Linked DNA regions of Homo sapiens. The protein of the gene in region 2 purifies or fractionates together with the protein of the main gene of each other region. This does not show direct contact. Each region holds a gene or a part of one and is shown on either strand. Other genes may lie near its edges.

Region 1 (4,271 bases), on a different chromosome or scaffold from region 2:
TTGTGATTTGTATGTCTTCTTTACAGAAGAATCTATTCAGATCCTTTCGTTATAAAATTGGTTTATTGTTTGTTTTATTATTTAGCGGTAATTACTGTTTATTTTATTTTATTATTTTGTTTTATTTTTTGAGATGGCGTCTTGCCCTGTTGCTTAGGCTGGAGTGTGCATTGGTGCAATTTTGGCTCACTGCAACCTCTGCCTCCCAGGTTCAAGCTATCCTCCCACCTCAGCCTCCTGAGTAGCTAAGATTACAGGCATACACCACCACACCCTGCTAATTTTTTTTGTGTGTGTATTTTTAGTAAAGATGGGGTTTCATCATGTTGGCCAGGCTGGTGTCAAACTCCTGACCTCAAGTGATCCCCCTGCCTCAGCCTCCCAAAGTGCTGGGATTACAGGATGAGCCACCATGCCTGGTCTTATATATTTTAGATACAAGTCATTTATGAGACATATTATTTGCAAAAATAATCTTGCACTGTGGCTGTCTTTCAAATTTCTTGACTGTGTTCACTGAAGCAAATTTTTTTTCAATTTTAATTATGTCCAGTTTATCTTTTTTTTCCTTTATTAACTTGTGCTTTGGTGTAAGAATTAAAAATCTAATACTTAATTCAAGGTCACAAAAATTTATTCTATATTTCCTCCCAAGAGTTTTATAGTGTAACCCTTATATTTGAGTCTTTGGCCTATTTTGAGTTAATTTTTGTATTTTGCATGAGGTAGGGGTGGAAGTTTTTTGTTTTTTTGTTTTTTTTTTGCATGTAGATACCAAGTTGTCCCAGTACCATTTATTGAAAATAGTTATTTCCCCTTTTGTCTTGCCTCCTTCTCAGAAGTTAATTGGCTGCAAATTAACTTTTGTGAGGGCTTATGTCTGGACTTTGGATTCTATTTCATTGATCAATATTTATATCCTATGCCAGTACCACATAGACTTGTTTATTGTAGCTTTGTAATAAGTTTTAAAATTTGGAAATGTGACTCTTCAAACTTTGTATACTTCAAGATTGTTTTGGCTATTCTGGGTCCATTACATTTTCATATGAACTTTAGAATCAGGTTATAAATTTCTTCAAAGTAGGCAACCTTAATTTTGATAAGGGTTGCATTGAATAGTTTGATTATTTTGAAGAGTGTTGTCATCTTTATAATACTGTGCCTTCTGATGCATAAAATGCCTTTCACCAGATGTCCTTTTAAAGAAGTCTGTGTTTACTGTTTGTGATGTTCAGCCTGGCTCAGAAGTTTTAAAACTCTAATGTGTGATTAGTAATATTATACAATCTTTAAAATAACTGTCTATAATTTATTAAGTGTGCATAACATAACTCTAGAATATACATAAATGTCACCATACCTCCATTTGTGATTTTTCAGATTCTTTAATTCTGATGCTAGGGACTAATTTCAGAGGATTGGGTAAAATACTCAGGTTTCACAATCTCTCTAAATATTCATTTTACAATGTAAGCTTTAATTACTTATTTGAACAAATTGTATTATTATTTTATATTTTAATTTATAAGCCAAGTTTATCTGACATTTTCAGATATAATATATGCTTTCAAGTCTGTTTATCTTTTATTATTACAATTCAAAGGTAGAAGCTTTATTTTTTTATATCCCTGGAAATTATTATAGTCTATAAATTTTTTTCTATAACCTTGTAATTCCTGAAACATTTATGAACTATATGAAATATTGAAAGCTGCTATCTAATGTTTTCCCATTTTACTTGTATTTTTTCACCATAATATTTATTACTGTTTTTAATTAGGATATTCTATTTGTTCAATACTAAGCATTTTAGAAGGAAAGTAGAAAATTACAAAAAACAAGCACATCAACCATTTCAGTCAGAAAAAAATAGTTAAGATGTAAAATACTAGGATGAGGATTAGCATAAAAAGATGTAGATTCCATGCAAAAACTGACAGCAAATTAAAGAAAGTGTACTGGAAACAATTCTTTTTTGGATTTAACCTTCCTCTACTTTCCTTATATTTTTCACTAAAATAAATGAATAAATAGACATAAATAAATGAATAAATGTAGGAAGAAGGTCATATTTCAACACTAATTTTAGTAATGCTTTACATAGGAGTTCTTATAAAATATTTACTTAAAATTCACAATTTACTAGATGTAGTCATATAGATCTAACACAGCGCTTAGAGACAAACTTTATTGGGGCCTTAATGGATTTATAGGAATATAAAGTTATACAACAAGAACAGGATGTCACCAAAAGAGTTCACTGGTTGGCTGCTGCAGGACCATCTCACAGGCATTGTTTGCTTTGGTAAGTTCACCATGATCCAGGGCATGGCCTTAAATCTCAGAGGTCTTACAACCCGATCTTGCCCATGTCTTAGAATTCATCGAAATTCAGGAAGTGAAATCGCGCTGATTACATCATAAGACTGAAAGATACAGAAAGAACAAAAGTTTATTGACTTATAATGAGAAATTCCATTATCATACAGGTCAGATATGTCTGTTGAGCAGAAAACACCCCAATTTCCCTATTAAGCAAGTTAAAGAGAATGCAAAATTATTAGATGAGTGCTTAATAAATATTAAATCAAAGGCATACAATGTCAATAACCTGCATCTTTTTGGTATCTAATGTATTTGAATGCAAAATAATTTATCTGTTAGGTGGACCAGATGTTTCTATTATCTTAGGCATATTTCTCCCCCAAAAAGTACAGGGATGTCTACCGCTATTACTCTTGTTTTATTAGGCTTCCAAAACTAATCAATCAGCCTCATTGTTCCCTCATAGCCCCTTGACAAACTCCTATATTCCTTGGAAATTTTATATTTATTTATTTATTTACACAAATAATACATGAATAAATACATGAATACAATCTAACTGTATATAATTCAAACAACATAGACATAATTCTTCTTACTGCTAAACTTTTACCATTCCTCAGTCTTTCTCCTATTTACAGAAGAAAACATAGTTATCAATTCTGTCTAGACCTTTTTATTTCTATTTAAATGTACACATATATAGTATTTATAATAATATAATAATTTAGATTTGGAGTTTATAATATAAATTAGATCATCCTAGCATACACTTCGGCAATTTGTTTTTATTCACTTATAAATGTCTTAATAATTTTTAATATAAAAATAGATCAGTCTCAATATTTCAATGGCTTCAAAATATTGCATCGTGTTACAGTATAATTTTAACTGTTGAAAGATGTTCAAATTCTGTTGAAAGATATTTAATATGCTTGCAACATTTTTACTACAAGCAAGCCAATTTATTGATATGTAGAATTATTTCCATATATTCTACAAATAAAACACAAGTCAAAACTTACAAACATTAAAATTACGATAGAGATAAAATACTTTAGAAACGTACAATTTTATAGACAGTAGATATTTAACCAAATCCTTTCTAAAACTGAGAATTCTGGAGACTTTTTTGATTGTGGCAAATATGATGACCTAATATTAAAGTCAACTATATTTATTATTATTATTGGCCATATATTTTTGTCTCCTATGAATTGCCTGTTCTTTGACTATATTTCTATCAGGCTTTGTTTCTGTATTAACATAAAGAAATGTATTATATATTCTATGAATTAATGGCATCCATTATCTATCTTTTAAATGGAACCACATTGTATATAAATAGTCTTTAAGTTTACTTATGCTGTTTTTCTTCGTATAAAATTTGCATGTTTTATAAAAGAAAATTATATTTAGAAATATAATACGAAGGCATTAAAATGAGGAAAACAACATGAAATGTATAAAAGAGAAGATTAACAATTTCTTCCAGAAAAACAATTCTAAATCTGTGGAGGTTAAAAGATGTTAAAAGTATGGAATAAATGCCTAATAATTTTTTCCATAACCAATCAAAGACACATATACTTACCAACATGTAACTCTTTCTGTTTGTTGTTACAAAAAATGAGTTTGTATTATACACATTACTCCGAACATGTTTTATTTATTTAATAATATCTCATAGTAACCACATAAACTTAAATATTTTAAAAATATCTGCACAAAATTCCAGCAAATGTGTCCACCAAAACATAGTAATTCTCAAAATGAACATAACTGAGACAGTTTCCAATTGTTTTCACAAATATGCAAACATATTCTCAGATGGTATAATAAAAAAGTTAAACAATTTGTGGATTACCATTTCAAATGTTTCAGTAAACAATTCTCCAAACACCAATGTATGAGAGACAAGCTAATCACCTCAACAAGAAATA
Region 2 (3,652 bases):
GGCTCTTTTGGAACCTTGTTCCCCAGCAGCAGATAAGTCACCCAGAGAGTATACAACATTTCAGACTCTGTATGTTTTCCTTTTTTGTTAGCCCCAACCAGGAAGTCTGAATTCCAGTATCTGGGATGGATCTGAAGTTCTGAGGCGAATCCGAGGACCACTGCTTGCTCAGGTATTAAATATTTTCTCTTTACATAAAATTTATAATATCCAAAAATTTTAAGTTCCTGTCGTCATCCTTTCCTTACTGAAGGGGTTTATAGGTCTTTCATTTGCTAGAATTATGTCGACTACTGCATCCAGCACTTAGCTATGCCTTTCTTTAGCCTCCAGGGTAAAGGTTGCAAGGGAGCCATTGGAATTTAAATTTGTTAGTGTATGATTGTGATTTGAATCACTTAAAAAGTCATATCTGAGCCAGGCGTGGTGGCTCACGCGTGTAATCCCAGCACTTTGAGAGGCTGAGACAGGTGGATCACTTGAGGTGAGGAGTTCAAGACCAGCCTGGCCAACATGGTGAAACCCCATCCTTACTAAAAATACAAAAATTAACCAGGCGTGGTGGTGGGCACCTGTAATCCCAGCTACTCAGGAGGCTGAGGCAGGAGAATCACTTGAACCTGGGAGGCAGGGCGGAAGTTGTAGTAAGGCAAGATTGCGCCACTGCACTCCAGCCTGGGCAACAGAGTGAGACTCTGTCTCAAAAAAAAAAAAAACTCATTTCTATGCAAAACTATAGGGACAGAGAGGTCATCAGTGTTTACTAGTGGTTGGACATGGCAGGAGGCGTTAACTACAAAGGAACAATACAATGGAATTTCTGGGGAGTGATGCAACTGTTCTTGCTCTCTCTTTCTTTCTTTTTTTTTTTTTTGAGACCAGGTCTTGCTGTGTCAACCAGGCTAGAGTGCACTGGTACAGTCATAGCTCTCTGTAACCTTGAACTTCCGGGCTCAAGTGATCCTCCCACCTCGGCCTCTTGAGTAGCTGAGACTACAGGTGCATGCCACCATGCCTGGCTTAGTTTTTTTATTTTTGTATAGATGAAGTCTCGCTGTGTTGCCCAGGCTAGTCTCAAACTCCTGGCTTCAAGTGATCCTCCCACCTCACCCTCCCAAGGCGCTGGGATTTCAGGCATGAGCCGCTTACCAAACTCAGAGAACCATATACCAAAAAGTGAATTTTACTATATGTGAATTAAAAATAAATAAAAAGTTAAAAAAATTTCTTAAGGTATTTTTGGCATCTGTAGAGATTACTAAAACATACCAAGTTAGTTAATTTCTATTTTATTTTACCACTTCCTCAATTAGGAAATGCCTACAGTGTCTGTATTAGAATATGCTTTGCCTCAGAGGCCCCCCCAGGGTCCAGAAGATGATCGGGACCTTTCTGAACGAGCATTACCAAGGCGGTCAACTTCACCTATCATTGGCAGTCCTCCTGTTAGAGCTGTCCCCATAGGCACCCCACCTAAACAGATGGCTGTACCCAGCTTCACCCAACAGGTACCTCTCATTAACAAGCACACAGCCCAGGATATTGGGAATCTGGGCAAAATTATTTGGAAAATTGGTGATGTTGGGTGGAGGGTGGAAATTTTGGGTAGGCATTAGATTAGAAAGAAAAATAGCTAGTTAGAGGAGAAATTAGTACAAATAAGAGACACATTCCCTGATACCCTTTGCTGCTGCTATTGCTGCTGCCTTTTAATTGGGGGAGAAAAAAGGGTAGTTAGCCACATTTAGCACATATATCCTTTTTGAAGTGTTTTGCTGGCTGCCCAAAACATTGTCAGAGAGATAACTGAAAGCCGGGGGGAGTGGGAACACACAGCATTGTCCACATCCCTTTTTACCTTTAAGATATCCCTGCTTTCCCTAGAGCCTGTGCAGTCCTGTTCCATAGACTTTCCTCCACCTGAAACCAGCAGCTGAAAAGGAAGGCCAATTTGGAAGGTATGGGGGGAGGGTGGTGTTGGTATGGCCTAGTTAGGCTCAAATCCTATGAAATGGTGGAGTCACAATGTATCACAAAAGTGCTGAGCATGGCGGCCATATCACAGGGGCTTCAGAATAGGACTTAGTTAATCCTCCAGCTTTCTTATCATTCCTTCTCCCTCAGTGCTACCAAAATATATCCTCTTGGAGAGAATTTGCAAGTCAGAATATCTGCTGGTATCTCCCTCAGACAGCATGGAAGGGTGGGGATAACTGGAGAATTAGCTAAATCTTCCTCAGTTAATGCTGACACTTTACTTGATTTGTGAGAGAAAGTGGCCCAAGGTTCTGTATTTGAACCTGTAGCCATAGCAATTTGCTTAGAAGTAGGGCTTTGCATTGAGTTCGTGTCTCTACCAGTACTTGAGGGGAGGGAGTGTAGGTGGAAGAAAAACTGATTTCATTGAGTGTAGTTGTATATATGTTTGTCCTGATAGATTCTGTGTCCGAAGCCTGTCCATGTTCGGCCCCCAATGCCACCTCGTTATCCTGCTCCCTATGGTGAGAGGATGTCTCCAAACCAGCTCTGCAGTGTCCCGGTATGTCACTTTAAGCCTAACAAAAATGTGCAGTATGTATTTTCTGATCACTATTTGTAAGATCACTGCCAGTATTTAGATTTGCTGACATCTCCTAAATTATACCTATTTTTTATAATCTCCTTACTTAAATTGCTGGATCTAATTGTCCCCAGGTCAGAGGACAGTTGTTTCTTACATCAGCTCTTTTCTTACCTTTAAAAATCTAAACTCATTGTGATCATCTGGTTCCTACCATTTCAGTCCCATGTTCTACTGCTTCTTTTTCATGTCACATGGTCATGGTGTTTTTATAATTTCTAGCATTACTCTTTTTTTCTATTCCAGAGCTTGACTCTGTAATTTGAGAGTTTTTATATCCAAGTTTATACTGCATTTCTGCTGAGTTTCCTTATTATGATGTACCCCCTGTTTTATAGCATATTCTTTTTTTTTTTTTTTTTTTTACCTTAGAACTCTTCCCTCCTGGGTCACCCTTTTCCTCCTAGTGTTCCTCCTGTTCTCAGCCCCCTCCAGAGAGCACAGCTTCTTGGAGGAGCACAGGTAAGCCTGTGATTAGCCCTACCCATAAAGAACTCTCCTACTTTCCTAAAGTTCATTAGATAATAGCCCCTTTTTTTGCTGTTAATCACTACTTTTATTTTTGCCTTTACTTTTTCAAACAAAGTTATTGATGGAAAACCGTATTCACTTTTCTGTAGACAAAAGCAAGGGGACTTGCTGATTGTCTAAATCTAAGATCTTCTTCCTCTTTGTAGCTACAGCCTGGACGGATGTCTCCCAGCCAGTTTGCACGGGTCCCTGGATTTGTTGGTAGTCCACTTGCTGCCATGAATCCCAAGTTGCTACAAGGGCGAGTTGGGCAGATGCTTCCCCCAGCACCAGGCTTCCGTGCCTTCTTTAGTGCTCCACCCTCCGCTACACCACCTCCACAGCAGCACCCTCCTGGCCCAGGACCCCACCTGCAAAACCTAAGGTATACAAAATCAACGCCACTGTTTATCAGTTATCAGCCAAGTCTCTTGATTGTGGATGTGTAGTTTTATAAGTCTCTTGATATTTGCTAACTATAAATTTTAAGATGTTATTGGATCCTCAAGTTGGCAAACATGG
Region 3 (4,117 bases), on a different chromosome or scaffold from region 2:
TTCATCTTTCCACTGCCGATTGTTTTCTCAAATGGTATCATTTGCTCGTCTTGCTTCTATTTGAGGCTCAGCTCTGCATTTTTTTTTCATTTACTTCTAACTTTCTCTGTCATCTCATTCTCACATTTTCATAATTGATACACGTTGTTCTTTCATGTCTTACCTCATTTTCTTAATGCCTTTTAACTCATTGTGAAATAGATAATAGTTTTGGTTATAATTTTGGTCTATTTTGTGTGCATTTTTTTCATTGCAAGTTTTTATGTCTGGAGAGATACTCTGTCCCTTTTTCTCGTATAATAACTTTGTATGTAATTTGATCTCAATACCTTTCTGTAGCTCATTTTTATGTGAATTTAATTTTCTTGAACTTTTAGAATGAGTAGAGGTTCAGGGAATATAAGTTCACAAAGCTGTTTCTGGGTAGTGTTAAAAAATACAGTGGTTTGCTTTGTGGTTTGTTTTCTAAGATTTCTTGATTCTATGACTTTGCCTCACTTTTATATGGTCTATCTCCTTCTCTTCTTGTCTCTATTGTCCCTTTCATAAAATTTTATTCCACTTCCAGCATAACATTTCCGTAAGACTTTATTCCACTCCCTTTTCCTTAGGGCTCTGGTCTAGAATGGCACCTTGGCAAGTCAGTTTTGAGTGTTCACAGGAGGTAGACTACTCCTGCCTGTTTGGTCTTTCTTATGGTAGACCTTCACCCAGTCAATAATGGAGTGAATAAAACTCCTCTGTTTCAGCTACCGCTATCTAATTGGCCAGCACAGTCTTTTAGTGGATACCGCTGGCTATTCTGGAATTCTGTTCTAAGGTTCATCAGATGTTGCCCCATTGCTTCCTTCTCGCTTTTGCACAGATGGCAATATCAACGGTGTCTAGAGACTATTGATAGTTTGCCTCACCTAGTTATGTTTTGAGTTTCATGGGGATAGCATGTCACATGGTTTGTTGTAATTGTTTTATGGATTTTAAACTTTGGTTTCTAGTTTCTCTTTCTGTTTTTACAAGATGATTCAGAGAAACTGAAAACCTATGCTACTGAGGCCACACCACTGACTTCCCGTAACTTACTTCTTCTCCCTATCCTTCCCGCCCAGGACTAGCTTTTGAATGCCTGTGACTTATTTAGGCATTACCATCTTTAAGTTCTACTTAACAGAGAAGCTGATAACCTTTGGTCTCTTTTTAATCAAACATTTTTGAAAGGTATCACAACAATGAACCAAATTTTAAAATTTATTTACAGTGAAATTTAAAAATAATTCTCCTCCCAGTTTCTATATAAAGCTTTCACAAAACCTATCCTTAGTGTCCATGTCATAAAACTGCATTAAAGAGATTTTCATTCTTCAGTAACAAAATTCCTCAGGATGGAGAGAATCTAAGATATTTTCACCAAACCAAATTCTGTGCCACAGACTACAGAATAAAAATATTACTGAACAAATTATGTATTAAATCATCACGAATAACAATCGCATTATTTTTGCACTTTAGAGATAAAGTGACTGATATATAGCAGGTACTGACTGAAGGATGCAAGAAAAGCCAAAGTTGGTTGTCTCCATTTCTGCAATGTACTGGTTTCCTTTTTAGCCCTCCCCGGGGGAAAAAAATACCTCTCTAAACCTAACTCAATCTATGTTTCAAATAAATTCAAGATAAGCTAACCTTGGAAACTTTTTGTAGTCTATTTCTCATCTACCAAATCTGATTGGAATCCAGCAACAAAAACTCCTTTCCAGAAGTAAACTACCTTCATGTTCGTAAATGCCGATTAAACCATAATTTAATAGGCTATTTACAATACTACCCATCACAACTGATTCAATCAGCTACACAAATTTCAAGCTTTTTTTCTGTAAAGCATCAGAAAAGAGATCAAATTCATTAAATGTGACAAACACCAAAGTATCACCCAAAGTCTAGTTTACCTAATAGACGACTGCTTTCTCCTCTCTTTCCACAGTTCCAATATATAAACTACGTTTTCGGAATCTACACATTAACGTTGTCCTGGGGTCAGTACATGCCAAATATTATTAGTAGTATTAATGTTCTATCAATTCGTTTCCCAACCCCCTCTGTCACACAGTGAGGCCTCCAAATAAAAGGTCCTACGCCCCACTCCCCAGCTGGCCCAAGAGTTTTTTGTTTTGGCAACAGGGGATTGGTGCTGCTTTTGAAATAACAGAAAGTAACAAAAGGCATCACCAATATGACCATCAGCCACGTCGGAAAGTCTAGGCTCCGGGGGCCGGGTGGGCCGCGCTCTAGATCAGGGAAAGTAAACAAGGTGACTGCGTGCGGAAGCGGCTGTTATCGTCTGTAAGTGGGTCTGCCGCTCTGGGTGGGATGGGGGAACCTACGAGGACACCCACTCCAGCTTCGCAGCCTCTGTAAGGAAAAAGGCAACTTGCAGCTCCCCGGGAGGAAACCGGAGAACAGTAAAAGCGTTCTTTCCCAGGACTTCATTTCGGAGTCGCGGAAGGACCAGCAGAAGCAAGAGCTGTCAGAGAAGCCGTGAACCCAGCGGCTCTGTCCACACACAGGCAACCTGCGTCCTTAGCCCCTTTCGGCTCATCCGGGCGTCCTCAAACCTTCCGTCCCCCTCCCTAATGCCACTAATCGTCCAGACGACGAGGGGAAAGAGGTGGCTCGAAAGCCCCAGCTCTAAGGTGGAGAGGGCCGCGGAGCCCCGGGTCCTCGGCTTTCTGAGCCGTTGCCCCTCGCTCACCCACCTGATGCTCTTTCACCACTTCGCTGAGACAGGGATACCGCTCTGAGATCCATCTGTAAAACTTGGGGACTCCCATTTCGATCGTCAACACTAATCCCAGTCAGGGCCAAACCGAAACCAAACGCCCCGCCGGGGCTCCGCCGCAGCCTCCGGTCGTCGCTCCGCGGATGACAACACACCGCCCGGCCGACCATAGAGAGCGCCCGGCGGGCCTAGAGCGGCAGGATCCGAGGCCGTCCGAGGGGCGGGGCTTAGCCCTCCGGGCCTCGCGCGGCCGGGGCCGCGGTACTGTCCAGTGGCGGTCAGGGAATCTGCGGAGGTTTGCTGGTGTGTTGCAACTTAGGGGCGAAAATGCCCCATGATAGAGTTGTGCTTTCTAAGTGGATTTGGAAGTGGCATGAAAACCGTACGAAGGTGTGGGAAGGGTATCGAACACTGATTTTTGTTCCGCTTGTCTCCTAGGGTTGCTAATCTCAGTATTTTTCATTCAGATTTCGAAAGATCTGGTGATTTACTTGGCTTAGTTTGTTGTTTTGTCAATAATTTTTTTTCTCTGAGGAATTTAAACTTACGTTTCTTAATACATACGTTTAAAAACGTTCTTTTCCAAATTGTTCAAAAAAATTTCCCATGTACCCGCCCCCCGCAACTGTTAACATAAGACCTTGGATACGAAATCATTTAATGTTTAGTTTTGACATTCTTGCATCCGGGTTTATCATATTTTTCCCCATCACACTTTCAACCGCACAGCAAAGGAGAGTTCTATCAACTTAAGTGAAATTATCAGTTTTAAATGTAAGAGTTTTCCACTTATTTGAATGTATTAACCCGTTACTTTGTATTTAAGTCTTCTGGATGAAAACTTACAGAAAAACCTTAAACATTTAATACTTTTTGGATTTTAAGATCTCAGGAAATGTTAAGTATCGCTGTCTTTCATGACCACTGGATTCTGCATTCTGGGACTGCAGTATGGCAGCATCACACAAATTACAGAATGTTTATTTCGTTTTCACATTCACGCTTCTTGGCTTATATTTTTTCCCTATCACACTTTAAAACAAAGTTTTATTAAGTGAACTTAATGATATGCTATTTATATTTATATATCTCTCTTACTAGACTGTCACTTCCTGGAGGGCAGGAGAGGGTAGCTCTATGCACAAGTCTGGCACAACGCCTTGCCCACAGTATTTATTCCATATAATTTTGTTCTTCAAGTGAATCCTTACAATAGCTAGGACTTTTAAAAGGAAATCAATAGAAGTTGTAAAATGAAATTAGACTTGCTTGTTTCTTGCAAATATAGTTTTTGACCATAAGAACACATGATATTCTATTTCTCCAATTATAATGCACAGTATG

The links.
Region 1: the proteins of PATL1 (region 2) and NBDY purify together in Homo sapiens (co-immunoprecipitation; one study listed by IntAct). This does not show direct contact.
Region 3: the proteins of PATL1 (region 2) and XRN1 purify together in Homo sapiens (co-immunoprecipitation; one large-scale study listed by IntAct). This does not show direct contact.

The regions. Positions count from the first base shown.
Region 1 is NC_000023.11:56,815,478-56,819,748, reverse strand, and holds the end of NBDY (negative regulator of P-body association), read right to left. Parts: intron 2,430-4,271; 3' UTR 570-2,429; downstream 1-569. UniProt on the Homo sapiens protein: Promotes dispersal of P-body components and is likely to play a role in the mRNA decapping process.
Region 2 is NC_000011.10:59,655,386-59,659,037, reverse strand, and holds part of PATL1 (protein PAT1 homolog 1), read left to right. Parts: intron 1-91; coding exon 92-172; intron 173-1,313; coding exon 1,314-1,508; intron 1,509-2,437; coding exon 2,438-2,539; intron 2,540-2,992; coding exon 2,993-3,082; intron 3,083-3,297; coding exon 3,298-3,515; intron 3,516-3,652. UniProt on the Homo sapiens protein: RNA-binding protein involved in deadenylation-dependent decapping of mRNAs, leading to the degradation of mRNAs. Acts as a scaffold protein that connects deadenylation and decapping machinery.
Region 3 is NC_000003.12:142,445,120-142,449,236, forward strand, and holds the start of XRN1 (5'-3' exoribonuclease 1), read right to left. Parts: upstream 2,919-4,117; 5' UTR 2,826-2,918; coding exon 2,751-2,825; intron 1-2,750. UniProt on the Homo sapiens protein: Major 5'-3' exoribonuclease involved in mRNA decay. Required for the 5'-3'-processing of the G4 tetraplex-containing DNA and RNA substrates. The kinetic of hydrolysis is faster for G4 RNA tetraplex than for G4 DNA tetraplex and monomeric RNA tetraplex.